Regions from separate parts of the Homo sapiens genome. Here regions 2, 3, 4, 5 and 6 are each reported to be linked to region 1. Evidence: microRNA targets listed by miRTarBase, many of them from high-throughput screens and not tested one by one. Region 1 holds a microRNA gene; each other region holds the end of a gene's coding sequence.
What was found. The annotated mature microRNA hsa-miR-6086 reads GGAGGUUGGGAAGGGCAGAG and lies in region 1 at 3,054-3,073, shown strand. An mRNA with a match to its seed (bases 2 to 7 or 8) in the 3' UTR can be bound and repressed. Matches are read on the target gene's strand: a 7mer-m8 pairs with bases 2 to 8, a 7mer-A1 pairs with bases 2 to 7 and ends in A, and an 8mer does both.

Region 2: the mRNA of MPLKIP is a reported target of hsa-miR-6086. Seed matches in the 3' UTR shown: 7mer-m8 at 4,602-4,608.
Region 3: miRTarBase lists IRAK1BP1 as a target of hsa-miR-6086. Seed matches in the 3' UTR shown: 7mer-m8 at 3,069-3,075.
Region 4: the mRNA of ATP5MJ is a reported target of hsa-miR-6086. The part of its 3' UTR that is shown has no 7-base or 8-base seed match.
Region 5: miRTarBase lists ADAMTSL1 as a target of hsa-miR-6086. Seed matches in the 3' UTR shown: 7mer-m8 at 1,108-1,114 and 7mer-m8 at 2,117-2,123.
Region 6: the mRNA of LYZ is a reported target of hsa-miR-6086. Seed matches in the 3' UTR shown: 7mer-m8 at 4,359-4,365.

Annotation. Positions count from the first base shown.
Region 1 is chrX:13,587,240-13,592,315 of GRCh38, forward strand. MIR6086 (microRNA 6086) reads left to right here and starts at 3,053; the gene lies at 3,053-3,107. It overlaps EGFL6 (EGF like domain multiple 6), which reads left to right. Exons shown (of 12, transcript NM_015507.4): 2 at 2,317-2,429.
Region 2 is chr7:40,128,381-40,133,456 of GRCh38, reverse strand. MPLKIP (M-phase specific PLK1 interacting protein) reads left to right here. Exons shown (of 2, transcript NM_138701.4): 2 at 198-5,076. The coding sequence ends at 398. Among named protein-coding and RNA genes, the nearest start is that of MPLKIP, 3.7 kb to the left of the region's middle.
Region 3 is chr6:78,897,655-78,902,730 of GRCh38, reverse strand. IRAK1BP1 (interleukin 1 receptor associated kinase 1 binding protein 1) reads right to left here. Exons shown (of 4, transcript NM_001010844.4): 3 at 4,772-4,902; 4 at 1-4,667. The coding sequence ends at 4,397. Among named protein-coding and RNA genes, the nearest start is that of IRAK1BP1, 33 kb to the right of the region's middle.
Region 4 is chr14:103,908,616-103,913,691 of GRCh38, forward strand. ATP5MJ (ATP synthase membrane subunit j) reads right to left here. Exons shown (of 4, transcript NM_004894.3): 4 at 3,673-4,079. The coding sequence ends at 4,051. Among named protein-coding and RNA genes, the nearest start is that of ATP5MJ, 10 kb to the right of the region's middle. RefSeq lists an enhancer at 2,171-2,671.
Region 5 is chr9:18,907,568-18,912,643 of GRCh38, forward strand. ADAMTSL1 (ADAMTS like 1) reads left to right here. Exons shown (of 29, transcript NM_001040272.6): 29 at 875-3,383. The coding sequence ends at 981. Among named protein-coding and RNA genes, the nearest start is that of SAXO1, 120 kb to the right of the region's middle.
Region 6 is chr12:69,352,856-69,357,931 of GRCh38, reverse strand. It overlaps LYZ (lysozyme), which reads right to left. Exons shown (of 4, transcript NM_000239.3): 4 at 3,698-4,779. The coding sequence ends at 4,713. Among named protein-coding and RNA genes, the nearest start is that of YEATS4, 4.3 kb to the left of the region's middle.

The DNA of each region.
Region 1 (5,076 bases):
CAATTTTTAAAATACTAAAGTAAAAAAATTATTAAGGACATCACTGTATTTGGACTGGCACTTATTTACTCAGCATACTTTATGGTTAGTTGCCCATAGTTTCTTCTTTTTTACTGATACAAAATATTTTACATATTTATGGGGTACATGTGAGTGTTACATGCATAGACTATATCATGATCCAGTTGTACTTGGGGTACCCATCAAATACTCAAATACCTTGAGTATTTACCATTTCTATGTGTTGGTAATATTTGACATCCTCTCTTCTAGCTACCTGGAAATTTACAATACATTGTTGCTAACTGTAGTCACCCTGCTGTGCTACAGAATATTGGAGTTTATCATAGGTTCTTTGGAAACTGTTAGGCGCAGACTGGGTCAAGATTGTGGTATCCCTTGCAGAATTGTTAGGAATATACAAATTAGATTAGACACATGGCTGCATTATTTCTCAGTCAAAACTCTTTAGCAGAGCATTTTAATAATATTTAGCATGCTATCCTATACTTGAATGCATATGTTTCCAATAGACTGTGAACTTAAGAGAGCAAAGACCAGGCCCTTTTCGTCACTGTACTCTATGTGCCTGAGACAGTACTTGGTACATAGCAAATGCACAATAAATGTTTTGCTTTAAAGTACTACTACTTAATGAAAGAAAAGTTTACCTTCCAGGGGACATTTGGCAATGTCTGGAGACATTTTCGTTTGTCAGAACTAGAGGGGTGTGTGCTACTGGCAACTGTAGATAAAGACCATTGTTAAATATCCTACAATGCACAGGACACCTCCCAACAACAAACAATGATCTGGCCCAAAATATCAGTTGTGTAGAAGTTGAGAAACCCTATTCTAAATGTTTGAGTGACTTATGAATCCCTAAAATTAATTCCATTAAAAAATGAAAAAAAGTTCTCTTCAAGAAAAAGTAAATGTTAAAATCATCCTCCCATTTGGTGCTCTCAGTAAATGAAATGTCTCAGACCATATCTTTATAGCTCTTAACTGAGTAATCACATTTGTGGGAGAGGCAGATCTTGAGGGAAATCTACAAGGTTGTTTAACTTCCCGACCTTGACTTAGATATTATTAACTTGCATGAAGTTCAGTTCTGTAGCAGAAAGCACATGGTAAAATGTGCATTCCTTTGTCTGTTAAAGAGCCCAGGAAACATTTTTACAGTGTATTTAATATGTGTAAGGAAATAATCACAGCCCTCCACTAAACATACAATGCAAGTATTTTCCTTCAAAGTCTGGTAGCAACCCTGTCCAATACCAGGACAGTAAGTAGGTAAACATGCAGTGAGCTTCATCCATGGCGGCACTACTTGGGGGCACTTGGTGGGGGACAGGGGGCTCACCTTTTTCAGGCATCTAGATCAGGCAAGCTACAGCCTGCTGGCCAAAGCTAGGTGATCCCCTCTTTATAAACAGCCCATGAGCGAAGAACAGTTTTTACATTTTTAAATGTTAGAAGATGGAGCAAAAGGAGAATACCATATCATGACACAGGAAAATTATATGCTATTCAAATTACAGTGTCCATAAATAAAGTTTTATTGGAACACAGTCATGCGCATCTGTTTACTATTGCCTATGGCTGCTTTTGTACTTGGACAGATATCTTATGGCCCTACAAAGCCTAAAATACTTACCATCTGGCTTTTTACAGAAAATGTTTGCCGATCTCTGCTCTAAAATTAAGCAGTTTAGCAAATTGGGTTTCCAGGAGGTCAATGGGAACGAGCCCTGGGCTAGAATTCCCAACACCCAGCTCTGCTGGGGATGTGACTCCACTCCATTGGACTGGAGTTTCCTCCTCTGTAACATAAGAGGGCTTTGCTGAACGAGCCCTTCCAACTCTTAATCATCTATAGTGTATGTTGATTCCAGTCTATTCAATGGTTCCCAGGTGCCAGTGGGATAAAAGTGCAGAGCTCTGGTCTGGGACAAAGCCACAGGATTAGAAAGTGACTGAAATAGACAAAGAACTGGATAGTTGCTGTGCGTATACAGAGCAGATCTGAAAAGTGACACTCTACAAGGTTCAAAAACATATACTTTGGACATCTTCATGTGCCCTAGTTTTATAGATTCTTTTAACCGTGGGGAAGAAGGAAATGGTTGAAACTAATTATTGAGGAAGGCTGGCAACCCCAAAATTCAGGTTTTCAAAATCTAATTTAGCACTTACTGCGGGTTCGTTGAAATTAACCAGGTAATTGACATCTCTGGTTCTTTTAGTAGTAGGGAAGAGTTTCTGTTGTCTTTTCTATTTTCTCAATACTAACATGTAGTTCTTTATCTGCAGTGCAAGGCATCACGGGTTGTTAGCATCGGCACGTCAGCCTGGGGTCTGTCACTATGGAACTAAACTGGCCTGCTGCTACGGCTGGAGAAGAAACAGCAAGGGAGTCTGTGAAGGTAATTTTGTAAAAACTCAGACCCTGCACTTGGATCAGGGCCCTTAGGTTTTTATCTGTCATACCATGAACTGCCACAAAATTGCCAGTGGATCTCTCAGGCAAGGACATGCATAACTACCAATAACCAAGGTCTGGGTTCCTATGAGATCTCTTCCCAGACAAAATGTGGCTGACGCCATCATACTTGGCATGATTTATTTTAGAAGACTGTCTTGTCAATTATTTTTGTGATTATCTTAATGAGTATGACTGGGTTGTTTGTTTTTGGTTTTCTTTTTAATCTAAAGGAACTAAGATGGGCAAAAGCAGGCTGGTAAATTTCTCCTCTAATTATAATTTAAGTGATTTCCAATGCAATAAACTTTAATTATTAATCACCCAACCAGTAGGCTTCAGCCACAAAATAAGTACACCTTTTAGCTTATAGATTTGTAACTCACATTTTTAAAATTCATACTGCCAATTTCTAAATGCTTTCAAGGTACATATGCATATATGCAAAGATTTTAAGTATTTTGCTGATTTTTTTGTACATTGCAAACCAAGGAACCATAATTTGCCTTGGACATTGTTTCTCAGACTATGTGTTAGGAACTCCGAGAGAGGCCTCTGATCATTTCAAGGAGGTTGGGAAGGGCAGAGATGAGCATAAAGTTTTTGCCTTGTTTTTCTTTTTATGACTTTCCATAACGACCAACACTGGCAGTGTAGCAGAACCAAATCCACATTCCTCCTGACTGTCTCACCAGGGGTGTATTCCTTCAGGGCAGTAGTCTACTCTCACTGTCCCTGTGTCCTTCAGTAGGTAGCATGTGCCTCATCCTAAGTTATTTATCTATTAAATGGGATAACAACACAGTTGCAGGTCCCATAAAAGCACTAACATGTTAGCTATTTTTAGGAATAACAATGCTACCTTCTTTTTGCTAGTCTGTTCCTGCCCCAACCTCCTTCTCTCTGGCTGGTTAAAAAATATCTGGATTGACCATAAGTGGGGTCAGAACTTGATAATATCCAAAATCTATAAAACAATAGAAAACATTGATATCGTTCCCACATGTTCCATATTATGCAAAACCTTCTGCCATCATAGTTTGCTTGTGACAAGATGACAAGAGCATAAAAATACTAGACAAAAACAAAGATCATCATTGCCCACTTAGATAAAGGAAGTTAGAATATCCTCCTGGGACTTGTGTCAATTAAAAGGGTGGGTCCTCATCCTGATTGGATTGATAGTGTCATGATCAAGGGCATTGAGAACCAGACTGACGTGGGTGACCTTGGGCAAGCTAGCTAAGGTAAGCTAGCTAAGGCTCAATTTCCTCCTCTGCAACCTGGAGAGAGCAATACCTACCTCTGAGAGTAAGGAATGTATGCATTAAAGGGTGAGTTCATTACCTGGCATGCATAGAAAATACCTCATAAATTACCATTCCTTCAGGAAGGACCAATAATTCTCATCACAGACTTCTCGTCATTAAAGCACCAGGTGATGGGGGGATTAAATGTGGCTTTATTCTTTTGCTAGACACAACATAACACATTTTTATTTGAAGTCAGTCAGGTGGAAAGGGGCAAAAACCACGTGAAACACATGATTTAGAGTCTCTCTTACAGTTGCACGAACATCAGCGTCTACTGCCATAAAACTTGTGAGACCCAGCATGTCGCTGGTGAATAAATGAAGGCAAGGTGTTAAAAGGGCAAGTGCAGGGGGTTCAAGCAAAATGCTCACTATGCAAGTTTTGCAAGCTGAAGAGACGGTCAGCACACCTACTGCTCCAGTCAAATGTTCAGGTCTTAAATTGCAATGATTTTTAGATCTAAAATGTGTATCATGTTTTATCCAATTTGCATGGTCCTTCTTGATGGTAAAGTCATGTTTCTTGAAGCACCAAATAACAGGGTAGTTATTCCCTGATTGCTGGGTTTCTGATTTCTAAGCCAGAGTTGTGGGATGCATGATAATAAGAATACACATCAACCTGCCCCAACAAGGAGAGCCAGACCCCAGGCTGTGAGGTCACAGTCTACCCAGGCCTTCCCCTCTGTCCATCTATTTGCCCTTCACTCCTTTTGAAGCCCTGCCTCTATGTATCCTGGAGCCTTCTAGCTCTCAGCCTCTACCCTGTCTAAATCTCCTCCCAAGGCAGGGTCTCATCAGTTCGATATCATTAACCTTAAAATGTATGCCACTTCAGTGAGATGAAATACAGAATTGTCCATAAACAAGTACCTGATGAAAAGCTTCAGATAGAGAAGTTTGGGGGAGAACCAAATAAGACTTTTACTTTGTCTAAATCATGCTTCAATCTCAGGCCATTTTAAACACAAACTGAATTTCCCTTGCTGTCGATTGGCTGTTGAAGTCACAGATCCAAAGTTACTGTAAATTGAAAACATCTTACTGAAGCTTTAACCTTATAGCAAGGGTATTATTCACCATTTCTCCTATGTTCTATTTGGCATTTATGCTGGGCTTTCCTGTCTGGACCACATTGGAAATCAGTTTCCAGGGAACAACTAGAGGTCTTCAGGGCTTAAAAAAAAAAAAAAAGATTTATTTTTCTAACATCTGAATTTAAAGTTGCAACTCCAAGTACATATCCATAACAAAGTAGACACTGGAAATTAAATTCTCT
Region 2 (5,076 bases), not on the chromosome of region 1:
ATAACGAATTGCTTTAAGTACTTTTTTTAAAAAATAGGAACACTTGATTAAAGGAAGCATGGACTTTGTAATTGAACATTATTTAGGTTCAAGTCACAACTTTTAAGCAGCAATGTGATTCCCGCTAACCTTTAGCTAAAGGAAGAAGTACCAATTATCTTTACTAAGTGTTTTTTTAACTGATTTTTTTTCTAAAGGGTTCTCCAAGGACATCTACACCATTTGGATCAGGGCGTGTTAGAGAAAAAAGAATGTCTAATGAGTTGGAAAATTATTTCAAGCCTTCAATGCTTGAAGATCCTTGGGCTGGCCTAGAACCAGTATCTGTAGTGGATATAAGCCAACAATACAGCAATACTCAAACATTCACAGGCAAAAAAGGAAGATACTTTTGTTAACATTTCTGAAATTCAACTGGAAGCTTCATGTGTCAGGAACATCTTGGACAAAACTTTAAGTTGTGTTGATATAAATTTACCCAAAGATGATGACTTTGATTGGATAATTAGTAAGGTCTTTTTGTTATTTTTCATCGTATCAGGTATTGTTGATATTAGAGAAAAAAGTAGGATAACTTGCAACATTTAGCTCTGGAAGTACCTACCACATTTTAGAGATTTACCGTTTCCATATATTTAACATTCCTGGTTACATAATGGACATTTGTCTTTTAATGTTTTTTCAATGTTTTAAAATAAAACATTTTGTCTTCTAGCTATTGTGGTTTTGTGGTATGATAAAGAAGTAGACTTACTACAGTAATGCTTTGTAGTCACTTAGAGTTCATAGGTAAATGTTTTGCAAATTATTTTTGAAAATGAAATAGGTAAACCATCCTTTGAGCTGTAGACAGCTCTGTATTTGTTCGTAAATAATGAGGATGAGAATAACAGAGTTCTGTTCATACTCATTTTATCTAATGCTTCTGTTAAAATGCATTAAAACTTGAAGCCCCAGAAACCCATTTAAGCATAACTTTATACTCATTTAACTGGAAAAGGCAAGAATAGACCATGCATTGCTAAATCAAAGTGTTCTATCTGAATTTCTCTATACCTCTTAGCATTATGGAGTTAGTTTCTCTTGAGGCCAAAGAAGATAGCTACCAGCAGCCTCAAATCACTTCCATTGCAAAAAGAACATCTCTCATCTCCATCAATCCAAGAGAAGACAAATTTGCCATACTTAGATCATGTTTCTGTATTATTGAACCAATTAACTGTGGCCAAGGCCACAGTGAGACCTAATTAACTTGAATCATGGACACATCACCATAATGAGACAGGATTCTGTGACCTTGAACACCACTGGGCCTACCTGGAGTAGAGAAGTGGTTTTCCAAATTAAGGGATGCTATGGATATATACCTATAGTTCTGGAGAGAAAAATATGGAAGAATTGTTACCCCAACTATTTTTTAAAAATCAAGTGGTTTTTTGTTTGTTTTTTGAGATGGAGTCTGTTGCCCAAGCTGGAGTGCAGTGGTGCAATCTTGGCTCACTGCAACCTTCGGCTCCTGAGTAGCTGGGACTACAGGCACATGTCACCATGCCTGGCTAATTTTTGTATTTTTAGTAGAGACCATGTTTTGTTTTTTTTGTTTGTTTTGTTTTGTTTTTGAAATAGGGTCTCACTCTGTTGCCCACGCTGGAGTGCAGTGGCGCAATCTTGGCTCACTGCAACGTCCGCCTCCCAGGTTCATACGAGTCTCCCGCCTCGACCTCCTGAGTAGCTGGGAATACAGGCACGCGCCTGGCTCATTTTTGTATTTTGAATAGAGATGGGGTTTCACCGTGTTGGCCAGGCTGGTCTCGATTGAACTCCTGGTCTCAAGTGATCCCCTACCTTGGCTTCCCAAAGTGCTGGGATTTCAGGCATGAGCCACCGTGCCCAGCCCAGAACATGTATTTTTAGTATTTTTAGTATTTTTAGTTTCACCATGTTGACCAGGCTGGTCTCGAACTCATGATCTCAAATGATCCACCCATCTCAGCCTCCCACAGTGCTGAGTTTACAGGCGTGAGCCACCATGCCCGGCCAAAATCAGGTGTTTTAACATGTAACACAGACTCTAGGCATTTTGAAGTTACAAAATACGAAGATAGAGCTAGTAAAACTTTTGTTTCAACATTCCCAGAAAGAAACGTGTAAAAACAAAATGGTCACACCTCCTATTTGAACCATACCCACAGAAATTTGTTCATTAGGTATTTCACAGAGACTAGAAAATAAGAATGGAAGGCTTTTAGATTAATAAAAGCTCCATGAAAGCCAGGATTTTGGAAATGCTGTTTCTACAAGTTACTAGCTGGATGAGTTCACTTCTCTATGCCTCAATTTTCTCATGTGTAAGATGAGAAAATTAATAGTACCTGTGTCATAGAGGTGTTGTGTTGGAGGATTAAATGAATTTATGTATGAAACTCTTAAGCCAGAGCCTGGCACATAGTAAGCACTCAATAAGTGGTAGCTGTTACTTTCTCATTTACCCCCATTTCCTTAGTTTTTAGAATAGTGTCTGCAAGATAGTAGGTACTTAAGTGATAAATGGATGTAGAAATTCTGATTGTAACTACTATATTGTTCTACCTACACCCTGTATATAAAAGGGATAACTTAGTAATTTTTCCCCAGTATTTTAAAGAAAAAGTCCTTATTCCCAACATTATGTCTTTCCAGATATGTTGAGGTCATGATGTATAATGGAAATTAAAGCAAAGGGAATACTTTTTTAAATACTTTATTGAACTTTATAGGTAAGAAATGTTGTCTTTAGGAAATGACATTTGGAGATAATTTACTGAAGCATCTCTTAGATCATTGGGTTATTAGTAAAGACGAAAACAGAAGTTAGGATTTTGTGCCAGTGTATTTATATCATATTTGGAAGACATTCAAACTGTAACTCTTCTAATGGTCTACGTACATTTTATTTCACTGTAAGTGTAACATAAAACAAAGGTAAAATTTCTTGCTAACGCTTACCAACATCTACTTCTAGAGACCTGGCCTGAGTTTTTTAAGAAAAATTTTTGTCCTCAGGAAAGATGCATACACTGTAAGTAGTGTATTCAGTTATCAAAATTCTTGTGGCATTGGCCATTTGGTTTGTTACCGTTACTCTATTTTTATTTATCTGAGTAAAAGGAATTGATTATTCTTTAAAATGAAAGGGATTGTTTTTTAATGTTCTAGGATACACATTTTACCTCTATAAAAATGCTGAATAACTTTTTAGAAAAACTTACAATTAAGTATACATCTTAAAAATTCATATGCTTAAAGGATGGAAGTGTAGTCTATAGTAGAGTCTTCAAACAAGGGTCTACATACTCCTGGGAATATTAAACTTTCTAAGGGATATGCAGGCATAAATAGCTTTAAGGGAATGCAAATTCAGATCGCAGTGCCCATGTAAATCCTTTATTAAAATTGACCTACATAAAAACATATCCATATCAAGGGATCATGCCAGTTCTTTTTCCCTGCTGCCTTTTGGTAATCACTGGTCTCCCATTTTACAAAAGAAACCTATGGCAAGTTGTGTTTTGCAGAAATGACCCCAACAATATTTAAAGTCTCATACCCTTCTCGAACCTTGCCACTACCCTTATCAAGATGTGGAGTTACGTCCCTTCCCTTTGAACATTAACAGACTTTTTTTTTTTTTCAAAGAGTTAGAGGGTCTCCTTATAGGGGCCTCCCTGTATTACCCAGGCTGGTCTCTAACTCTTAGGCTTAAGGGGTCCTCCAGCCTCGGCCTCCCAAAGTGCTGGAATTACAGGTGTGAGCCACCACGCTTGGCCCCTTAGCCAACTTCTGACTGCCATAATTAAGAGAATATGATGGAAGTTAATCTATTTTCATTGTGGGTAAAGTGTGGTGTTAAAAATGAGTTATAGGCCAGGCACTATGGCTCACACCTGTAATCCCAGCACTTTGGGAGCCCAGGTGGGCAGATCACTTGAGGTTCGGAGTTTGAGACCAGCCTGGCCAATATGGTAAAGCCTCGTCTCCACTAAAAACACAAAAATAAGCTGGGCATGGTGGCGCGCGCCTGTAATACCAGCTACTGGGGAGGCTGAGGCAGAAGAATCACTTGAACCCAGGAGGCAGAGGTTGCAGTGAGCCGAGATAGTGCCACTGCACTCCAGCCTGGGTGACAGAGTGATACTCCATCTCAAAAAAAAAAAAAAATAAGTTATATTGGCCCGTGTGGAGATGTTCAGAATTCAGATGTATTATCAAGTTGGGAAATAATGATGAAAGTGTTCAGTGACCTTGCCTTTTTGTTTCTGGACTATTCAAAAAATCATTTCCTTTGTGGGTACATTGTGTGAAAGGAAAGCAAAGAGCATGAGTTTAACATGAAGGAAAAGATACCTTATTTTTAGGCAAAAAGCAAATGGTGAGGCTCTTTGCCTCATCTACCTAAGAATTAAAATATTCAAGATTAGTAAAAAAGCATGATTAGTTTTGGTGAATCTCCTGTGAAGCAAACTCTGTATTTCCACCATTCTTTTTTTTTTTTTTTTTTTTTTGAGACGAAGTCTTGTTCTGTCACCCATGCTGGAGTGCAGTGGCACGATCTCAGCTCACTACAACCTCTGCCTCCCAAGTTCAAGCAATTCTCCTGCCTCAGCCTCCCGAGTAGTTGGGACTACAGGCATGTGCCACCACACCCAGCTAATTTTTTGTATTTTTAGTAGAGGCAGGGTTTCACCCTGTTAGCCAGGATGGTCTCAATCTCCTGACCTCATGATCTGCCCAGCCTCAGCCTCCCAAAGTGCTGGGATTACAGGCGTGAGCCACCGCGCCCGGCCCTCCACCATTCTTGATAATTATAAAGAGCCTGATGAAGATATCTCAATTCCTGTCTCAGTAGCATAGTTTGCATGATATCAAGGAGGAGGAAGTTAAAAGTTTCATGTTTACTTCTGACATACTAACATTACATCTTCAAGTTAAAAACATTTTAGAAGTAAGTTCATGAATTTATATTTTCTGAAACATTTTCAGATTCTTAAGAGAAACATTTTCATTAACCCTTGCCAGTACATTTATTATTAGGTTCTA
Region 3 (5,076 bases), not on the chromosome of region 1:
GGTGCGATCTCGGCTCACTGTAAGCTCTGCCTCCCAGGTTCGAGCGTTTCTTCTGCTTCAGCCTCCCCGGTAGCTGAGATTACAGTCACACGCCACCACGCCTGAGTAACTTCTGTATTTTTAGAAGAGACAGGGTTTCAATATATTGGCCAGGTTGGTCTCGAACTCCTGACCTCAAGTGATCTGCCTACCTCGGCCTCCCAAGTGCTGGGATTACAGGCGTGAGCCAACGTGCCTGGCCTACCCGGGCATTTTAAATAAATTTAGGCCACACTAGGTTATGAGTAGAAGCTATTTGGGGCTGGGTGCAGTGGCTCAAGCCTGTAGTCCAGCACTCTGGGAAGCTGAGGCAGGACTGCTTGAAGCCAGGAGTTTGAGACCAGCCTGGGCAACATAGCAAGACCTTATCACTAATAAAAAATTAGCCAGGCCTGGTGGTGTGCACCTAATGTTTCAGCTACTTAAAAGGCTGAGGTGAGAGGATTTCTTCAGCCCAGGAGTTTTTAGGCTGCAGTAAGCTATGATTGAGCTACTTGCACTCCATCCTGGGTGACAGAGCAACAGCCTCAAACAACGACAACAACAAACTCAGTGATTTGGTTGCAAATACCATATATGTAATAGTAAATGTCTAAATGTTAGCTTAAACTAATTTATATAGGTCTTTTTTTGTTGGAATAAATAAAGCATTTGCTTTCATTTTGTAATGCAGATAATCATATAGTAACTCCCACATTTGATCTCATAATTCATGCTTTTTATAGGCTATAAGAACTCCTTACTATTAAATTCTTATCAACAAATCTGACAGAGTTGAGATATCCTTAGCCCATATTCCTGAGAAGGAATATTACAAAACAACAATTATAGGATGAGGTACAGCATCTTGAGTTACAAATTATTTTTCTAAGTCCTATTTGTTTACACTGAACTCAAATTGACCGTCAAATAAGAATACTGATAAAAGTACATTGCCACTATAAAAAATGTAATTTTTAGTATGTAATTGAATGGAATCCTAAAATTCATTATGAATTATCAGTAATATATGAAATCTTATTTTAATAGCATTTCCTTTTAATAGCACTTCCATTTAGGATACAGTGGGTCTGTTTCAAATATCCTATTTAGAATTTTTGTTTGTCTTTCAGAAAATAGAAATTATAACTTCCTACTTTCTGGAAAGATTTTTTTTTTTTTAAACAGAGTTCAAAAGAAGGAAATTCTAACAGGATTAAGTTTAGGATAGGTTTATTCTAGTAGACTTTGTGGCACAGGTCCCCTAAATAATTCATCATAAGATTCCAGTGTATGCCATGTATCAAGAAATTAAATTGCTATCAACTGACAACTAAATTTGATACCCTTTAGTATACAGAATACTACACATAAGTCTTTCCAATCTTTGAATGATTTCTTCCCTAAGCTCTTCTATAGAAAAATGTAGGATTGTATACTTTACAGGATTTTTTTGTTTTTTTTGGAGACAACATCTTTAAAAGTTCCTGGAAATTCTAAAAAGTGCCTACTAACTTAAAAAAAAAATTGTCTTTAGGTATTTCATGCTAAGTTGGAAGCTTCTTTATCAAATATGATGCAACCAAATACAGCATGAACCCATAGCTAAAAAAAAAAAAACTACCCATGTGATTAAATTTTTGTTGAGAACGAACAATTTTTTTCTTGATGCACAACCTCATTCTACTTTTCTGTACAACTGGATAGTAACTTCTTTTTGGTAATAAAAATTCAACATATGTTACATTGGTTTTCTGACAACTTTATTTTCAATATGGCTATTTAAAAATTCTTCCTAATGGAGGATTTGGAAAAGCCAACTTTTAATTGAGCCAACAATAATCAAACAATGCAGCTGATATATCAGCTACTATTTTCAGAGTGACCGTTATGTGCTAGCAATTGTTCTCATGATCATATATTTATCAACTTTAATCCTTATAATAACACTGCAAGGTTAAGTACTATTAGTCTCTTTCATTTGTAAGGACAAAGGAAGATTAAAGAGATTAAAGTAACTTGCCTTTTATCCAGCTAGTAAATTTTCCCAGCAAATATTTGAGAGCATACTTGATATTGGCCCTGAGACTACCTCTGGGGCTGGGAACACAACTGTGAACAAGACAGACAAGATCTCCACTTTCAAGGAGCTTACATTCCAGTAGTAAGGTCAGGATTTGGATATAATGGTGTTGAACTCAAACTCTTCTTAGCTTCTACTCTTCCCCTACAGCAACACTCCAATAAGATGAATAAAATTGTTTCAGGGCCACTTTAAAAAGTGGGTGAAGCTGGACACTATATACTGGAATATGTTGTAAGAAAGTACTGTTGGTATATAAACATCCAGATTTATCAATGGAAAAACTCTATGACCTAGATGTATAGAGAATGGAAAGCCTATGCTGCATAACAGACATGGCTTATGATTGCCTGTAGATAAAATGTAATTCTTACTGTAGATAGCAGTAATACATACTTGCTGTTAACTTTCAAATGGCCTTAAGAATCATTATTATCTCAGTGTTTGACCTTGGTCTGTTCAGCAAGGTAGTCTCAAGCCATTTGTGGCCTTCAAGTACTTGAAATATGGCTAGTGTGACTGAGGAACTAAATTTTAAATTTTATTTAATTTTAACTAATTTAAAAACTGATACTTGATCCAGTTACAAGATTTTTTAGGCATGCTAGAACAACCTGGGTATGTGAATCTCTTTTTTTCAACTGTACATTTTAGGAAATTTAAATACAGATAAAATATTTCTGATGAAAATTTAGCATGTGAATTGAGATGTGCTATTATGTAAAAATATACACTGAATTTTGAAGATAAAACAAATATCTCAATTTAAAAAATACTGATTACATGCTGAAATAATATTTTTGATATATTTGGTTAAATAAAATGTTATTAAAATTAGTTTCAACTGTTTCTTTTTTAAAGTTTTATTTTTAAAAATGTGCGTACAGGGCCAGATGCAGTGGCTCACGCCTGTAATCCCAGCTACTTGGGAGGCTGAGGCAGGAGAATCGCTTAAATTCAGGAGGCAGAGGTTGCAGTGAGCTGAGATCGTACCACTGCACTCCAGCTTGGGCGACAGAGAAAGACTCCATCTCGAAAAAGAAAAATAAAAAAACATGTGCACTAGGAAATTTTAAATTACACATATCGTTTGCTTTGTATTTGTATCACTCTAAGGAGCCCTGTTGGAGTCCGATCCAAACATTAACTCTTTTATTTTTGGCATCAAAACATTTTCCTATTATACCTCATTATTCTTTTGTAAAAAGCTATGAATTATTTATCACTATTTCTATTCATGTTGTGAAGTTGTTAAGGTTGGGGTTGTTATCTGCATCTTACCAAAATGGTCTCTGGTCCTAGTAAAGAAACTGTTAGATGTGAGATAGCCCTCAGTAGACTTCACCTTCCTAAACATATTGCTGGGTGTGGCAAGCATGAAAGACCTTGGCTGTTCTTTACCTGGGCCATTTCTCAGTATTGAGTTTTGAGTGAGCATCTATAAGGGATGAGGCAAAGAGCAGGTTTGCTTCTGTTCATGGATAAAAAGCAGTGAACCCTCCAAGCTCAGTATTCTTTACCTACAACAAAAGCCTGCTGTATATGTAGCCATATTGCATATGGCCATATCATTTTGCCCCCATGGGACCTGGGACAAGGGGAAGCAATGAGAATGTGCTGATGCTCATGCTCCTTGTTGTGCCATGAGTAATAGTCCTTTGTTTCTGTCTGGGAATCTCAAGTCTTCTGTTAGCATCCATGAAGAAGTAACAGGGTAACTACTTAGCTTCTAACTAAAGTAAAATTAAATATCAGACCTGACAGGATGCACTTAAAATTATGTATTTATACTCATTTTTAGTTGTGGAAAATTATTAGGTTTGATGGGATATAGGAATTCTTTTCCATAAAAATTTTGTCTTACAATTTAAAAAATTTAGCTAACTTATTGAAGCCTAGTTTTTACATAAAATTTGGTTTTATATAAAAATGTGGCTGAGAAAATTTTAGCTTAAATATCTTTAAAAATTATGAAATGCAAGGGTCAATATCTGTCCTTATAATAGAAATATTACACATGTGCTTGTATGAACTGTCAGTATATAAGTATGCACATAATACATTTATTATCCAAGAGTGTTTTTCAGAGTAGTCTTTTAAAAATAGAAAGTGAACATAAGTATTCTGTGGGACTATATTCAAAGATTTATAGATTTTGGAAAGAAATAGCTTATCTCCTATACCATATATATATATATATATATATATATATATATATTCAGGACAAACGTAAACATTATAAAAAGTATAAAAATAGGTAAAAAGATACAAGTACAATATAATTTGTTTGGAATTTCAAAGGTGCTTTTTTCTCTTCTCTTTTCCCTTTACCTCAAAAGTTATAAATACTTTTGAAGCAGCATGTATTGTTGCACTTTTGATTTTTTGTTGTACAGTTAATGAACTTGAGAGTCTGGATGACTGGTGATCATCTATTTGGCCTTCCCATTCTTTTGTTTCTTCTTCTTTGATTAGTAAAGGTTTTCCTAAGGTTTGGCCAACAAGGTTACAGACTTCTTGAGCTTTGCGCCACGCATTCTCAACAGCAACAAGACAGGCTTGCCGTCTTAGGAATTAAATGGAGAGATTATTAATATGACACTCAATGAAATGTAGCACTGGATAGTTTTGTTTAAAGAATATCTTAGTTAAAGATGTGCTTAAACTTACCGAAGATTCTCAACAGAACCTGGAGTATGATAGAACTGGGGTGGGCTGATGACAACAGAGCTATCTAGCTTTTCAACAAGAAAGTTACAAATATTTTGCATTTTTCCAAATTCAGTAAATGTAATGCAGACCTGTAAATGAAATGACACGATATTATTTTCATGTCTGATGTACTGTTTCAAGATTTTCTCTACATGTAAGTAAAAAAAGTATAGCCAGACTATGAGGTCATTTTATAGTATGTAACAGATTTTTAAAAGCCTATTTGATACTTATAACTAAATTATTTTGTTCTTTAAGATTTT
Region 4 (5,076 bases), not on the chromosome of region 1:
TAAAAAATAAGTTTTTATTCCTAACTAAATGAGAGTTTTCTGACATTTTCCCTCTAGACTTAGGTGTTCATTAACTCTGGCCTATATTACATCATTCTTTAAGAGGGAAAACAAGTGAAAAAGCTGAGACTTCCTTTGTAGTAAGAGACATCAGGGGAGCGGTTGTTGTGAAGAGTGGTGATGAGACAGTCACTGTCTGACAGAGCCGCCCGCAGAGTCGTTACCTTCATTTCCTGGGGCTGCACAGTGCCAGCTTCTCAAACAGGTATTATAATACTAACACAGGCTTCCATCACATGGCTTTTTTTTTAAAGTATTTTTAAAAACTTTTTATTGGGAAAAGTTAAAATGTATGCAGAGTGAATTCTGTAATGCACTTCTAGACGTCCACCCCCTACCCTCTACACAATTACCGATCTCATCCCATCTAGAGACTCCGTCCCCCCAATCTGTTTTGACTGGCTAGTATTTGCTGGTGTATCTTAAAGTACATCCTAGGTATCATTTCACACCTACATAATTGCGCCTGCATTTCTTTCTTTTTTCTTTTTGAGACAGAGTCTCTGTCGCCCAGGCTGGAGTGCAATGGCACGATCTCGGCTCACTGCAACCTCCGCCTCCTGGGTTCAAGCAATTCTTATGCCTCAGCCTCCCAAGTAGCTGTGATTACAGGTGCGTGCCACCACGCCTGGCTAGTTTTTGTATTTTTAGTAGAGACACGGTTTCACCATGTTGGCCAGGCTGGTCTTGAACCCCTGACCTCAGATGATCCACTGTGCCCGGCCTGCACCTCCATTTCTAAAACCAAAGAAATTTTCTTTAATAACTACAATACCACTATTGTGGTGGTGATCACCTAATAAGATTAACACTTCAACATCACTTAACACCCAGTCCACGTTCACATTTCTCTGTACGTACCAGAAATGCCTCTTGGTGGCTGGTTTGTCTGAAGGGTGGAAGCAGGGTCCGTGCTCAGAGCTGGCTGTTGAGCAGGTGCTGTGCTTGCTCCAAGGCCCGTGTGCAGCGAGGCCTGATGCTGGCGCCCGTCAGACGGTTCCTAACAGCACAGACGTCCAGGATTGTGTCTGCCAAGCACTGGCACTGTGTGTCTGCAGGTCTGTTCTCTAGCCTCTGTGTTCAGGGAGTGAAGAGAACGTGTGCTAACCACCGCCGCATCCCCGACGGCAACGCACGCCCAGCACAGGTGAAGGAGCTCTCTGAAGCCACGCTGTGGTCCGAGTCCCGATTCTGAAGCGGGTCAGATTTTGAATCCTGGCCAACCAGTTAACTAGTTGGTTTGTTAGCCAGGTAGTTATCCTCTAGTACAAACTACTTATCCTGTCTGGGCATCCATTTCTTCAGCTGTGAAATGGGGTGATGGTATGGGCTCACGGGTTATTGTGCAGATAAAAATGAAGCAGACTACGGCCTGGCACCCCGGAACTCGGGATCCGTTAGCTTGACAGAGACAACTCCCTTGAGGGTGGCAGGAAGCACACCCTCCAAAGCCTCTGGTTGGGGTGCGTGTACCCCTGGGATACAGTGACAATCAAGAAGAAACACCATGCCTTCTCCTAGAGTCTCATCTGAGGCTAACTTAGAGCACGTTGTTTAAAATGACACCTTCAGCTGCCTGTGAGCCACTTCCTCTCCTCCCAGCCTTTGTCGTTACTCTGCAGCACAGCTGAGCACTGCATTAAGTCAGAGCAGCACGAATGCGTAGGCTTTGGGACAAAAAGCCTCTGGGATTCCTTCCTGAACTGGCCCTGCCCACTCCCGTGGCTCTCTGTGCATACCTCTTGCCCATTGGCACCGCCCTCCAAATGCTCCTTTCAACAGATCCTCCTGGCCCCGTGCTCCTCGCCCACGGGGAAGCCCAGGTGACATTCTCTAGCTCCACCTACAGGCTGCCTTCGGGACAAGACCTGGTTGTTTCCAAAACCCCGAGGGATTCAGTGTGTGAGTGAGTTCTGGGATAGCAAATGCAATTATTTTTTGTTTTCTTTTTGAGACAGGGTCTCGTTCTGTCGCCCATGCTGGAATGCAGTGGTGTGATCTTGGCTCACTGCAGTCTCGACCTAAGCTCAAACAATCCTCAAGCATCAGCCTCCCCAGTAGCTGGGATTACAGGCGCACACCGCTACGCCTGGATAATTTTTGTTATTTTTTGTAGAGATGGGGTTTCGCCATGTTGCCCAGGCTGATCTCAAACTCCTGGGTTCAAGCGATCTGCCCGCCTCAGCCTCCCAAAGTGCAGGCGTGAGCCACTGGGCCCAACCTACCCTGGTAATTTGCCAAAGGAAGCCTTAAGTAGTAAAGGGAGAAGAGGAATGGCCCAGCCTTTGTGGGGAAGCCCTCCTGGGTCAGACACATCAATCTCTGCTTCCGGGGGTGAGGTGGGGGGTGGGGGTGGGGAGGGCAGCTCCCATCCGTCCTCACCTCCCTTTGGAGGAGAGTTCAGGTTCTGGGGGTTCAAGTCCTAGCCCCAGTGCTTGCTAACTGCGACATCTGTAGCGTGTTACTGCCTCTCAGCCTGTTTCCTGTTCTGAAAGTCAGGGCCTGTACTGATGCCTCACTAGGTTCTAAGGTGGACTAAATGCACTAAGATGCGTGACACAGGGCTGGAGCCTGGTGCCAGTGCAGTGGATGTGAAGGCTGTGATAGGGCAGGCCTGGGTTCTTTGTATCATTAGAAATTTTCCAGCTGGGGTCCTGGCATCCGCATGTCCTGGATGCTTGTTAGACATACAAGTTCTTGGGCTCCTTCCTACAGCAGTGCAATCAGAACACTGGGGCCCAGCTGGCTGTTAGGGCCTTCCAGGTGATTCTAATGCACTCTCAAGCCTGAGCAGCTGGGCAGATGGATAATTTTAAAGGTAGGGCCTTTCTGTACCACAGCAGATTCATCTTCTGGAGGCAGAAGAGAACAAAATACGTTCGCAGGAAAAATGTGATTCCTGTGTCAGAACCAAACCCTCTGAATCTCACACGACCTGACGCTGACTTCCACTGATGCTGTGTAATGCTTTCCTGCAAACTTCTCACACAGCCCAACAACCCTGAGGCTGTTGGAGGAAGCCATGACAGGTTTTGGTTGTCTTACAAAAGAAACTGAGGCTCAGAGAGATCTCCGTCATCTGTTGGACATCTACCATGGGCCAGACCTAATGAGGCTAAATGCCAGAGACACAGATGATAAACAGGATGGTCTCAAGAGGACAGGACACCCAGGGTGCAGCCACCACCCCCATTCCACAGCTGCTCTCCTACCCACCTGCAGAGTGCCAGATTTCAAACTGGACTCACTTTTACCCCCATGCTTGCTGCTTTAGAATCTTTTTAGCGCACAATTTAGGGATCTTGGTAATTGTCTTAGATGGAGACAAATATTATGCAGTATGCATTTGATACTAGCCTAACTAGAATCAATTGGCTTTTTTTTTCAATTGGCTTATTATGTACTTTGCCTTGTGATTATTTCCTGATGCAATATTCTCCTACAGCTTATAATTTCAACTACTATGTCATTGAATGCTACCTTATTTCTAAAGGACTTCATAGTTTAAATCTTTCTCTTATTTATCCTCATAATAACTGTAAGTTAGAGCTTACATAATTAACATCTCCATTTTCCAAATAAGAAAACAAGAGGCTCAGAGAGGCCACAAGATAAGTAGCAGGATCAAGTTTAATAAACGTTTATTGAGCAGTAGAATACAAGTGAGTGCCTGGATCCTGATCACCAAGTCCTGTACAACTGAGGTAATTATTTCACAATGATGGGTGGCTCAGTGAGATTCTGATTGCATGCGCTGCATGACAAATTATCTACTCAGAGTATGCCTGACACGCCGGAGGGGCTGAGGGGGAACACACTGAAAGCAGTACCAGGTAGCAGTGCATCTCACAGATCCATTTATTCATGCCATGAAGTAAACGGTACTTATACAAGTGTACAGTGACGTTCCACGCTCCCCATCTAACACGGCTTGCTGAAATTTACAGGCAGACTGACGTTTTCTTTCACATGTACTCCAAGTAAATCTGGTTAGTGATGACCAGGAGCAGGCGCTGAAGCTTTTGAAAGAGATGCATATATAAATATGATTTAAGAAGGAAGGAACAAGTTGGATGTAATTTATTAAACAAGTATCAAAAGAAGTTGATCAACAGTCCAAAAAGATAAATGACACCTTTCAATACTATTGAAAAGTAGGATTATTTCTATATGAAACACCCAGAGTGCTTAAGGGTTCATGTAATGACAGCAGACAGGCAGTGGTCACCCACAGCGCAAAGAGAGAGGCAGGGAAACACCTCCTCCTCAAACTCATGTAGCCAGTCCTGGGTTTGTGTAACATTCAAATGGCTACAGTTTCATTGTCACTCTGGCATAAATTTATAAGGCGCTTTCTTTCAAAATACATTAAAGGCCAGGCGCAGTGGCTCACGCCTGTAATCCCAACACTTTGGGAGGCCAAGGCAGGTGGATCACCTGAGGTAGGAGTTTGAAACCAGCCGGCCAACCCCATCTCTACTAAAAATACAAAAAATTAGCCGGGTATGGTGGCGGGCACCTGTAATCCCAGCTACTTGGGAGGCTAAGGCAGGAGAATTGCTTGAACCTGGAAGGCGGAGGTTGCAGTGAGCCAAGATTGTGCCACTGCACTCCAGCCTGGGCAACACAGCGAGACTCTGTCTCAAAAAAAAAAAAACCCAAAAAACAAAACCAAACCATTAAAAACACATCATTACGGGTAGGCTGAGGCGGGTGGATCACAAGGTCAGGAGATCCAGACCATCCTGGCTATGTGAAACCCTATCTCTACTAAAAATACAAAACATTAGCCAGGCGTGGCGGCAGGTGCCTGTAGTCCCAGCTACTCAGAAGGCTGAGGCAGGAGAACGGCATGAACCTGGGAGGCGGAGCTTGCAGTGAGCTGAGATCGCAGCACTGCAGTCCAGCCTGGGCGACAGAGCGAGGCTCCGTCTCAAAAAACAATAAACAAAATAAAACGACATCATTAGGGAACTTCTAGGACAGCATGCTTGCACAGCTCACTTGTGCTTCCCT
Region 5 (5,076 bases), not on the chromosome of region 1:
CAAAGAGTAGGAAGTAAAAACCAAATGTAGCTGTGCAGTTTTCTCCCCAACTGGGCCTCACTGAGCAATAAATTCCCAACACTAAGGCAGACGCCATGTAGGCAAATAGCCCACTTCTTTTTACACGCTGGGGGATGGATGATCTTTGTACTCGGGTAGTGTTAACCCATGTTTGTGTCAGTGGCTCACCATGCTCAGAGAGCGCCAATATTCAACGCACATAGTTAAAACTTACCAAACCAAGTCAGCACAATATTTAAGACCATCTAGTCTGTGCCAACACTGAACTAGAACGTCCTGGTGCTGTGTTTAAGGCATGATGGGTAGAAGGAAGAGAGACTGGAGGGCACATGAAAATAAAGCTTAACAGAGAAAGTAGGCCCAAGTGCCTGGGGATGGGGGCACCCGACGCAAGTCTCACTTCACACTCCTGCAAAGTCGGGGAGGATGCAGTGCTGGGAACCATCTTGAGGAGGAGAGTCATTTACTTAAAATACCAAAACCCACGGGAAAAGGCAGGTTTGCCTAGGGGGAGAGGTGATCACCTAGGAGATGAGGTAATCCCAAGAAGATAGAGAAAACAGGCACCTTCAGGAAGTAGAGGGAGCTGCAGAAAACAAGCAGACAGCCCAGGGAGGGGCCCCATCATTCAGCCAGACAGCTGCAGGCTGGTGCCACCCCTGCTGTTGGCAGCCTTGGGGAGCAAGTGGCTGAGCTCTGTCAAAGTTAGGCTGGAGAGCGGTGGCCAAGGCAGACCCCAGGATGTACCCCAGTGGCTGAAACCCCCGGCTGCACCTCACACAGGCTGCGTTCATTAGTCTCTGTTTCACATCTCTTTTCTGTCTCCTCTCCCGACCCCGTCCTCCTTTCCCAGTGGAGTGCAGAGACACCACCAGGTACTGCGAGAAGGTGAAACAGCTGAAACTCTGCCAACTCAGCCAGTTTAAATCTCGCTGCTGTGGAACTTGTGGCAAAGCGTGAAGATAGGGTGTGGGGAAAAACTCTACCCTGGCCACACGAAGGACTCACGCAACCACCTCGGACAGAACCTAAGCTTTCTTCATTTTATTTATTTATTTCCCCCTCCCCACTCCACACACACCCTTCCAACCTCCTCCACCTCCACCTTCAAGCATAAGGACGTCCGCGTGTTTTCTCTTTCAGTTAGCTGGAGGACAGGATGTTGGGAAAGGAAAGGACAGATGTCTAAAGGAGGTTGCAGAGCAGGCCAGGCAGACAGTGGGGGCTCCCTTGAAGAGCTTCCTCCCTCCCAAACCTGGGTCTCAAAGACCTAGAAAGAGGCAGGCACAGCCCCTGCGGACAGCAGGGAGCCAGAAGGTTTGTAGCCTATTGGTGCAAACATTGGACAAATTCCTGTGTCTTTCCTAGAAGCGCACTATCACAAACACAGGAGTGTTTTGCTCCTTTGTCTCCTCTTCCCCATCTATGTCCCTTTAGTCACAGTTAGGACAAATGGGGAGGGGACACCATGCTGAGGCAGAAACTAGCCCAGAACTCACTCAGTTCTTCTAGTGGGTGAGTGCAGAGAGAGAAGAACTCAGATCACCAGTAGGGAGAGGTAAAAAAGCAAACAAAGCAGGCTCTAAGGCACACAACATTGCAGAAAATGAGGAAGGGAGGGGAGGGAAGGGACAGAAGCAAAAAGGAGCCTGTGGTGTTCCCCAGTGGGGCAGGGTGAGCAGGGGCTTCCAGGCTGCATGAGGCTCATGGACCAGCTCTGATCCCATGCATGTGCGCATGCTCAGAGCCCTGCTGCCCACAACAGAGCACTGCGCTGCGTGGGAGTCCCCACTTCCCAAGCTATCAGAGTCAACGTCCTGCCTGTGCAGCTGCAGCAAAGCCAGTGAGAGGTGGGTCTCGCCATGCAGTAAGGCCACCCTGGCACCTCTTTATCTAAATCCGAAGTCCCCTAGCCCCGCACTAACTAACTGCTGCTGTGGGCCAGGGCCATTTTGAGCATGAATGGCCCAGGTTTTTTGCCTTCTAGGACCTTTGCTGCTCCACCGAAGGGCCAGGGACTATGGTTAACTTATCAACATCAACCCATTAACTAGTCACTGTGCCAGAGAGTATCTGTCAGGCTGTCAGGTTGTAGCAACCTCTTCATTCCAGAGCTGGCCCAGGGACCGGGGTGGGACAATGGGTTTATGCGTGTCCACAGTACACCCTCCCTCTCCCAGCCTCCACCCCAGGGTCTGCAGGTCCTCCGGCATGTAGTATTTATCTAGCAAGGCGGGGTGGTGGAGGCAGCACCCTGGCAAAGCAGCTCACACACTGCAGCCACACTCATCAGCTGTGGTGAGGCGGCTGGAGCAAAGTCAAAGTCATGCAGCAAAATGAAAACTCTGGGACTCTTCGGCAAAATCCTCATTAAGCCGAGCAGCTTTGGCCAAGTAATTTTTGCCTCCTTCCCTCGCGTGGCCTGAGTTTAGGAGCAAGGGTGGCCAGAGTCCCTTACCCACAGATAAGCCTCCCCTCATGAAATGCCACTCACCCCGGGCTACCATTGACATCAGGGCTGCATTTCCAGCCAGCCTGGAAGTAAAATTTGAGAGGAAGACAATATTAATCTGTGTCCCCACCTAGTGAGCTGTGGACAGGTTTAAGTTGGGTCTCCTTCTTCTTCACCACAAAAACAGGCTCTAAGAAATCATGTTACTAAAAAATCAGTGTAAAGTCTGTTTAAAATAAAAAAGAATGTTTTCTATGTCTGTATATCTTTTGTGAATATTTATTAGGATTTCTTATTAAAAAAGTGCAATATTAATAATTGTACATTGTCATCCAGAAACAAAACTATTGGGGGGACTTTATTAACTAACTTCCTGCAGTTGTGTTCCTGTAAACTCAGTAGTGATTATTATATTTTTCCTATTTTTAATAGAACCTGGTGTTTAACTCTGGATCCATTCACTGTACAGGATGTGTTGTAAAAACTAACATGGGATGCTGAGGCAGTAAGAGGGAATTCATTTGTGGCATAATAGTTATGCATGGAATGATAAAGACAGACAAATTCCATACTACTACTAATGTGGTTAATTATTTCTAGTTCGATAGTGATTGAAAATCAGTGGTCACTATTTACATTTCCTAAAGAGCAAGCATCCTCCAGCTCCATGTTGGGTTGGAGCAGTTGGCAGTGGGTCTCAGTGAGCTGGCAGAACCTAGGTTTGGGTGGGAAGCAGAATGCTCGTTGCATGAAATGAATGTACATTTAATGTTTGTTCTGTGAATTGCAACTCAGCAGCACCACAAGACAATGAAGGCTGCTGGCTAATGTGGAAGGAGGCACTTTCTCCTCTAAAACACAAAACTGTATTTGTATTTTTTGTACAGATAATACAGCTTATTTATTTAAATCTTGTCGTCTGAGTCTCTGTTAAACTCAGCCTTCCTTCCCCTGGTGGTTTATGCAGGGAGCAAGAGAAGTCCCTGTCAGTTGGGTGGTTCCCAGCCAGTTATTTGCGTCTGGCTGAAGTGGAAGGATTGCAGTTTTCATCTTTACACAGGAAGCTGGGGGCCCATGCCTAGAAGTGCTAGCTCTGTAAATAAACCCAAAGAAGCTGCGTTTGTAGATGTACACACATTCAGGCTGAGTGCAGCCAAATGAGACGACAGTTAACTCACTGACAGCCCTATGTGGTGGGAAGATGGGAGCCACAGTACCTTCGGGAAGTGAAGCAAACAGGGACATCGCTTGGGAGAGATGCAGACTTGGGTGTGGAATTATCCTCACTCATCAGGCTTCCTACCAACAGAGACACACACAGCGGGAGGCAGCTGCATGGTGAAAGTTCGGATGTATGCTATTAATAAAGACTAACACTTATAGATCACAACTACATTTAATCCTCACATTAGCCCTATGATTATCTCCATTTACATATGGGAAAATAGCAGCCCAAAGAAGCCCAAGGTCACCCAGCTGGGGGAACTAGGATTGAAAGTCAGGCAGTCCTACTCTAGCCGAAGACTCGATTTGACCCACCATGCTGCCTCCAACCCCGCTGCCTGCAACTGCTGTGCCACAGCCACCTTGGGCACGCATGCCATTCTTCCCTACTGCTTTAAGGTCGGTCAATGACAGTAACAGGACATTTTACTGAAATTGTCACTTTCTCCTACCCTAAAGGCAGTTCTTTTACCATGATAGCACTTCTAGCTCCCTATTTTTAAAGCATTTTAATAAAAACAGCTACTGTAGGAAGTGCGGGGGGGAAACAAGCACACCTGTAGAACTCTTTATAAACAGGCCCTAGTGAAAGGGCAGCATGTTGCCGGGCGGAGAAGATGTCCATGCAGAGTCTATGGTGAGAGCTGCTCCAGAAAGCCCAACTCCAGCCGGTCTGCCAGCAGCTCGCCCCGGCACACCACAGGCCTGTCGAACAGTGTGAAAATATACCAGAAAGCTCTTCTTGACATTTCAGTTACTTTTTTAAGAGGTTTTAGGTTTTGCTTTAAAGAAAAAGCCAATGCTAAAACTATACCTATTCACAGACCAGCAACCAAACAATGTCTTACAGAGGCCCCACGGCAGGAGGGAGGAGCTGGAAATGCCAGAGCAAAAACCCAGTAAGGCTCAAATGGTGGGAAGGGCCCCAATACAATGTATGTAAATTTTTCCAGCCAAAAGCACAGAGTCCTTGCTTAGCCTCAAAGATTTCCAGGAAATCCCTGATCCCATTAAGATCAGAGTGGTCGACAGTCACTGAATCTCATTTATGCCTCAGTTTCTTCTTCCTGCAACAGCATACCTCATCAGGTAGGGCTGTGTGAAAACCATTAGTTAATTCACATTGAACTGCTTGAACCCAGGAAGCAAAGGTTGCAGTAAGCCAAGATCACACCACTACACTCCAGCCTGGGTGACACAGCAAGACTCCATCTCAAAAAAAAAAAAAAGCTTGGGGGGTATCTGGCATATCATCGAAGCACTTATTGACTGTTAATTGCTATTATCATCAGCATCATCTAAGTTACCTTGGAAGAAACAGGGAGATGAAGGGCAGGGCTGACAGAATTTTTGATATTTTACATTACTTCCCATTGTCA
Region 6 (5,076 bases), not on the chromosome of region 1:
CATTGCTTTCCCTCTTCAGTCTACTTTGTCTAATCTCTGGCAGTTTCCTCAATCAGCCTGTGTTGTTGGGTTATCCTGGCACTTCTTGGACATGTCCTATCTCTGTTTCTCAGCTGTCACTCTTCAACTCTCTCTCCGCTACCTTGACTCATCCTTTGTACACCTCAGGGTATCTCGATATGCATAAACTCATTCGTTTTTAGTTTAATCACGTCAGAATGGTCCAAGAATTTTGAAGCCAAAGGTTGCACCTATGTAGTGGCCCTCTGCTGCCCTCACATGGCTAGTCTATGTGCTGCATTTACATAGCCAAGAAGTGGCTTGGAACCCCGCAAGCGGTTGTACTGGAATCATGTGGCCTTGAAGAGTTAATTAAAAAAAAAAAAAAAAAAAAAAAAAGGCTGGGCGCGGTGGCTCGCGCCTGTAATCCCAGCACTTTGGGAGGCCAAGGCGGGCGGATTACGAGGTCAGGAGATCGATCTCCTGACATGGTGAAACCCCCTCTCTACTAAAAATACAAAAATGAGCTAGGCGTGGTGGCGAGTACCTGTAGTCCCAACTACTCGGGAGGCTGAGGCAGGAGAATCGCTTGAACCCAGGAGGCGGACGTTGCAGTGAGCTGAGATCGCGCCACTGCAGTCCAGCCTGGGTGACAGAGCGAGACTCCGTCTCAAAAACAAAAAGCTTAGAATGTTCAGTTTGGAGGGAACATACTAAATAATCAGCAAGAGATTTATTCGATCAACTGATATTGATTGAGCATGTACCATGTTCCAGTCACTCTTCTAGGTGTTTAGAATACAGAAGTGGAATGAGTGAAAAATTTCTATTCTTCCTATCAGGACAGTGGTTCAGCATATTATAAAATCAGAGATGTATCATGGTAAGGAGGGTGTCCAGGTGTTGGGGAAGGAAGCAACCCACTGAGGGATGTCAGAGCCTGAGTGGAGAGCACTTGGGCAGAGTTGGGGAATTGGTTACATACAGGCAAACCCATCAAATACGTAAATGTACTAAGGATACATTTTAAGGATAATGAGTATAATGGATGCTAAGTTACTTACTGTCAGAGAAGAGAGTTAAAACATGCGAAAGAAGAAAACTAGAGTGAATCCTGTGGTGTGAGATTAGAATTGGAGATATTGGTGTGGATTCATGATTTTCAATATAAATAGATAGATATAGAGATAAATATAGTGTAAATACATATATCTTCCAGCTCTGTTCACTGATAGGGCCTGGAAACAGTGATACCCTAGTGCCCAGATCCTGTTTTTTTAATACTATTATGCACTTTGAGGAATCAGGGCTCCTTGGAGAAATGCCTTTTCCATTTTTGGAAGCAAGGAAGGAACAAGGTGAGCCTTAGAATATCTTGTGCCAGAAAACAAGAAAGTGCTTGAAGAATGATGGAAATATGTCGAAATGGCACAGAAGACAACTTGCAGGGGCTCACTGGCCAAATCGAGGACAGTGTGAACATCAAAATAAATAATAGTAATGGACTATAACTCCTTATGATTTGAATAAAATAGAAGCCATGGGTCCATACTGATATAATAAATAAATGCATGACCAGGCACGGTGGTTCACACCTGTAATCCAGCACCTGGGAGGCCAAGGCAGGCAGATTGCTTGAGCTCAGGAGTTCCAGACAAGCCTGGGCAACATGGCAAAACCCCATCTCTACTAAAAATACAAAAATTAGCCAGGCATGGTAACGCGTGCGAGTAGTCCCAGCTACTCAGGAGGCTGACGCGGGAGGATTGCATAAGCCTGGGAGGCAGAGGTTGCAGTGAGCTGAGATCGCGCCACTGCACTCCAGCCTAGGCGACAGAGTGAAATCCTGCCTCTAAATAAATAAACAAACAAACTGAAAATTTGATGAGCAGTAGTCTCAAGGCACCTCCTCCCCAAATACTTTACAGTGAAGATGGCTTGCAGGCCTCACCTTAATCAAGTGATCCAAGTGAACATCATCAATAATGGGGCAAATCAAAACTGCAAAAACTGAATGCCACCTGAAAGGATGCAGTGAGAACATCACTTCTGTGGTATTCCTACCAAAGATGCATAACTTAATGGAATCGAGAGAACACCAGAAAAACCTTAGGTACATTCTATAACATAACTAGTCTGTGGTCTTCAAAAGTGGCAAGGTCATAAAAAGTCCAGAAAGAAACAACTGAGGAAATAATCCAGATTCAAAGAGACTTAAAAAACATGACAACCAAATACAATATGATTCTGAATTAGATGCTTTTGTTATGAAGGTCTTATTGGGACAATCGATGAAATTGAGTGGAATCTGATGACTAGGTGGTAGTAATGTATCAGTGTTAATTTCCTAATTTGGATAATTGTTTTGAGGTTTTATGCAGGAGAATGTCTTTATAGGAATTACACACTGATGTAATCAGGGCCATTGGGTATCATGTTGGCTATTTACTCTCAAAACAGTTCTGAAAAATAAAAGATCTTTGTACAGTACTTTTATATTTTTTAAAAGATTGAGTTTATTTCAATGTTTTTTTAAAAAGTGGAAAAACCTCTGTCATTTTGGAAGTTATATTTTGGTGAGAAGAGACAAATAAGTAAAATATGTAGTATATAAAATTATTATAGACTTGAGCCCTGAGGCACTCTCACATTTAGAAATTAAATAGCAGAGAAAGAGTGAGCAAGAAGGACTGAGAAAGAACAGTCAGTGAGGTAGGATGTAAATAAGGAAAAGCCAAGGGATTAAAAAACTGCTAAAAGTATGAAGCGGTTCACTTTGTCAAATGCTGCTGAGATGAACAAGATGATCACTGGAATTAGCACTGAGGAATCATGGGAGAAATCCTGGAGGAGCAGTTTCAGCTGGGTGAGGATAGAAGCCAGATTAGAGAGGGTTGAAAAGACACTGGGAGGTGAGGTCATGGAGTTGGTAAGTACAGACATACTTCCCCAGAAGTCTTGCTGTAAAGGGAGCAGAGAATGGAGTTGCAGTTGGAGGATTATGTAGGGTCAGTGGAGTATTTGTTGTAAGATGGAAGGTTACTAGGGCAGACTGTAGAATGATGGAGGTGATCCAGCTAAAAGGGACAAACTAGGGATGCAGGAAACAGCCTGACTTGGAGTAGTGAGAGGGATGGGAGGGAAACTGCATGTGGAGTCAGTGCTGTTGGCAGGAGCAGAGGCTCTTCATCCTGATAATAGGAGGGAAGGAAGGAAGGATGGGCCTGTGGGAAGGTATGACTGCTGCTTTGGGATGTAGAAGGGAAAGCTTGGTATGAAGTTGCTTTTGTTTTAGAAGTGTAATATGAGGCCAGGTTATCTGCTGAGAGCAGAGGAGGGTGGAGGATAAGGGGGCAGAGGAGGAGGCTGAATGTGTGTCTTGAGGCTTTGAAGAGAGAAGAGGAAAAGTAAAATAGTAACAGTCATTTTGGAGACTAGGGACATAAAAATGGAAGGATTGTAGAGAAGTAACTAAAATGGTCAGGCAGACTTGAGGGCTCATTTGAGATTTATGGTTATGAATTTAAAGTGAGACCTGTCAGCATGCTTGTGAATTTTTCTCCAGCAATATCTGACTATTTAAGTGAGGTAAGTGACGATATAAGAGATATTAAGAGCACCAAATCATATTTTTTCAAATATCTGTATTCTTTTCTTCAGAGACACTATAGGAGTCTAAATAAAAACAGACAAGGCATGTGTTGCAAAGCCTTTAATTAGAATGTTTGTATTTTTTACATCATGCATAACTTCACATTTGTGATTAATTAGTAATTATTTCAATACTTGTAAGCTCATCTGCCTCAGATTTAATCATAATACATGAATTAAATTAATCAAATTAAGGAACAGCAATTTAGAAAGAAACACACTTTAAGAAATCAAAATTCTCAATTCAGGCAGTCTGTTTCTATCATTTGGTATTCTACTCCTTTAAAAATTTCATATTGCCCAACAAAAAGTGGTTATTTTTACTGTTTTTGGAGATGACTGAACAGATGAAGGCATCAGATGCCTTCATCAGCTGGTATTTTGCCTAAGATCTATTTAAGATAACCTTTTCTTATATTTTTTACTTAATATTGGGCATAATCGTATCATTCAAGATTAAGTCTGGGTTATTTCTTTGATAAGAACTGAATGTGGCCGGGCGCAGTGGCTCACGCCTGTAATCCCAGCACTTTGGGAGGCCGAGGTGGGTGGATCACAAGGTCAGGAGATCGAGACCATCCTGGCTAACACGGTGAAACCCTGTCTCTACTAAAAATACAAAAAATTAGCCGGGCGTGGTGGCGGGCGCCCGTAATCCCAGCTACTCGGGAGGCTGAGGCAGGAGAATGGCGTGAACCCGGGAGGTGGAGGTTGCAGTGAGCCGAGATTGCGCCACTGCACTCCAGCCTGGGCGACAGAGCGAGACTGTCTCAAAAAAAAAAAGAACGGAATGTACTGGAGATGTATTTGATAACCAAGGTTTTAGGTAAATTTTCACCAGTATTAGTTCTATTTGCAAACTGAAAAATGTTGTAGGCTTAATGTAAAATAACCACATTAGTGAACATTATATCTCTTAGAAGAAAGGCCATATTTTGCTCCTGCTTCTGTAAAAATATTATTTGTTTGAAGGGGAAATAATGGTAGTGTGACCTTTCACTTAATTCCTACTCCCTTAATGTGAGAGAGACAAAATGAGCTGAAGAAGGAAAATTCTGGAGTTACACTCCACAACCTTGAACATACTGACGGACATCTCTGTTTTGACAACGATTTCTCCATGCCACCCTGTAGAAAAAGATGAAGCAAATGGTGAAAGGTTAAAACATATCTTCATTGTAATATACATACTTCGCACTCCTTGGGGAAACAAAATATTTTATCAATAGATAAAATAGTAAGATAGACCCAGCTATTGCTATTTATTAAATGAAGATATGTATACAAAATACTTCACTCCTACCCAAATTTCTCAGTAGAGCATAGAATGCCGAACATAAAGATTGAGTAATGTGCGTTGTACAGCAGCAACTGCAAAGTGAATTCCACATTTATTTTTTATGTATTTATTTGAGACAGAGTCTC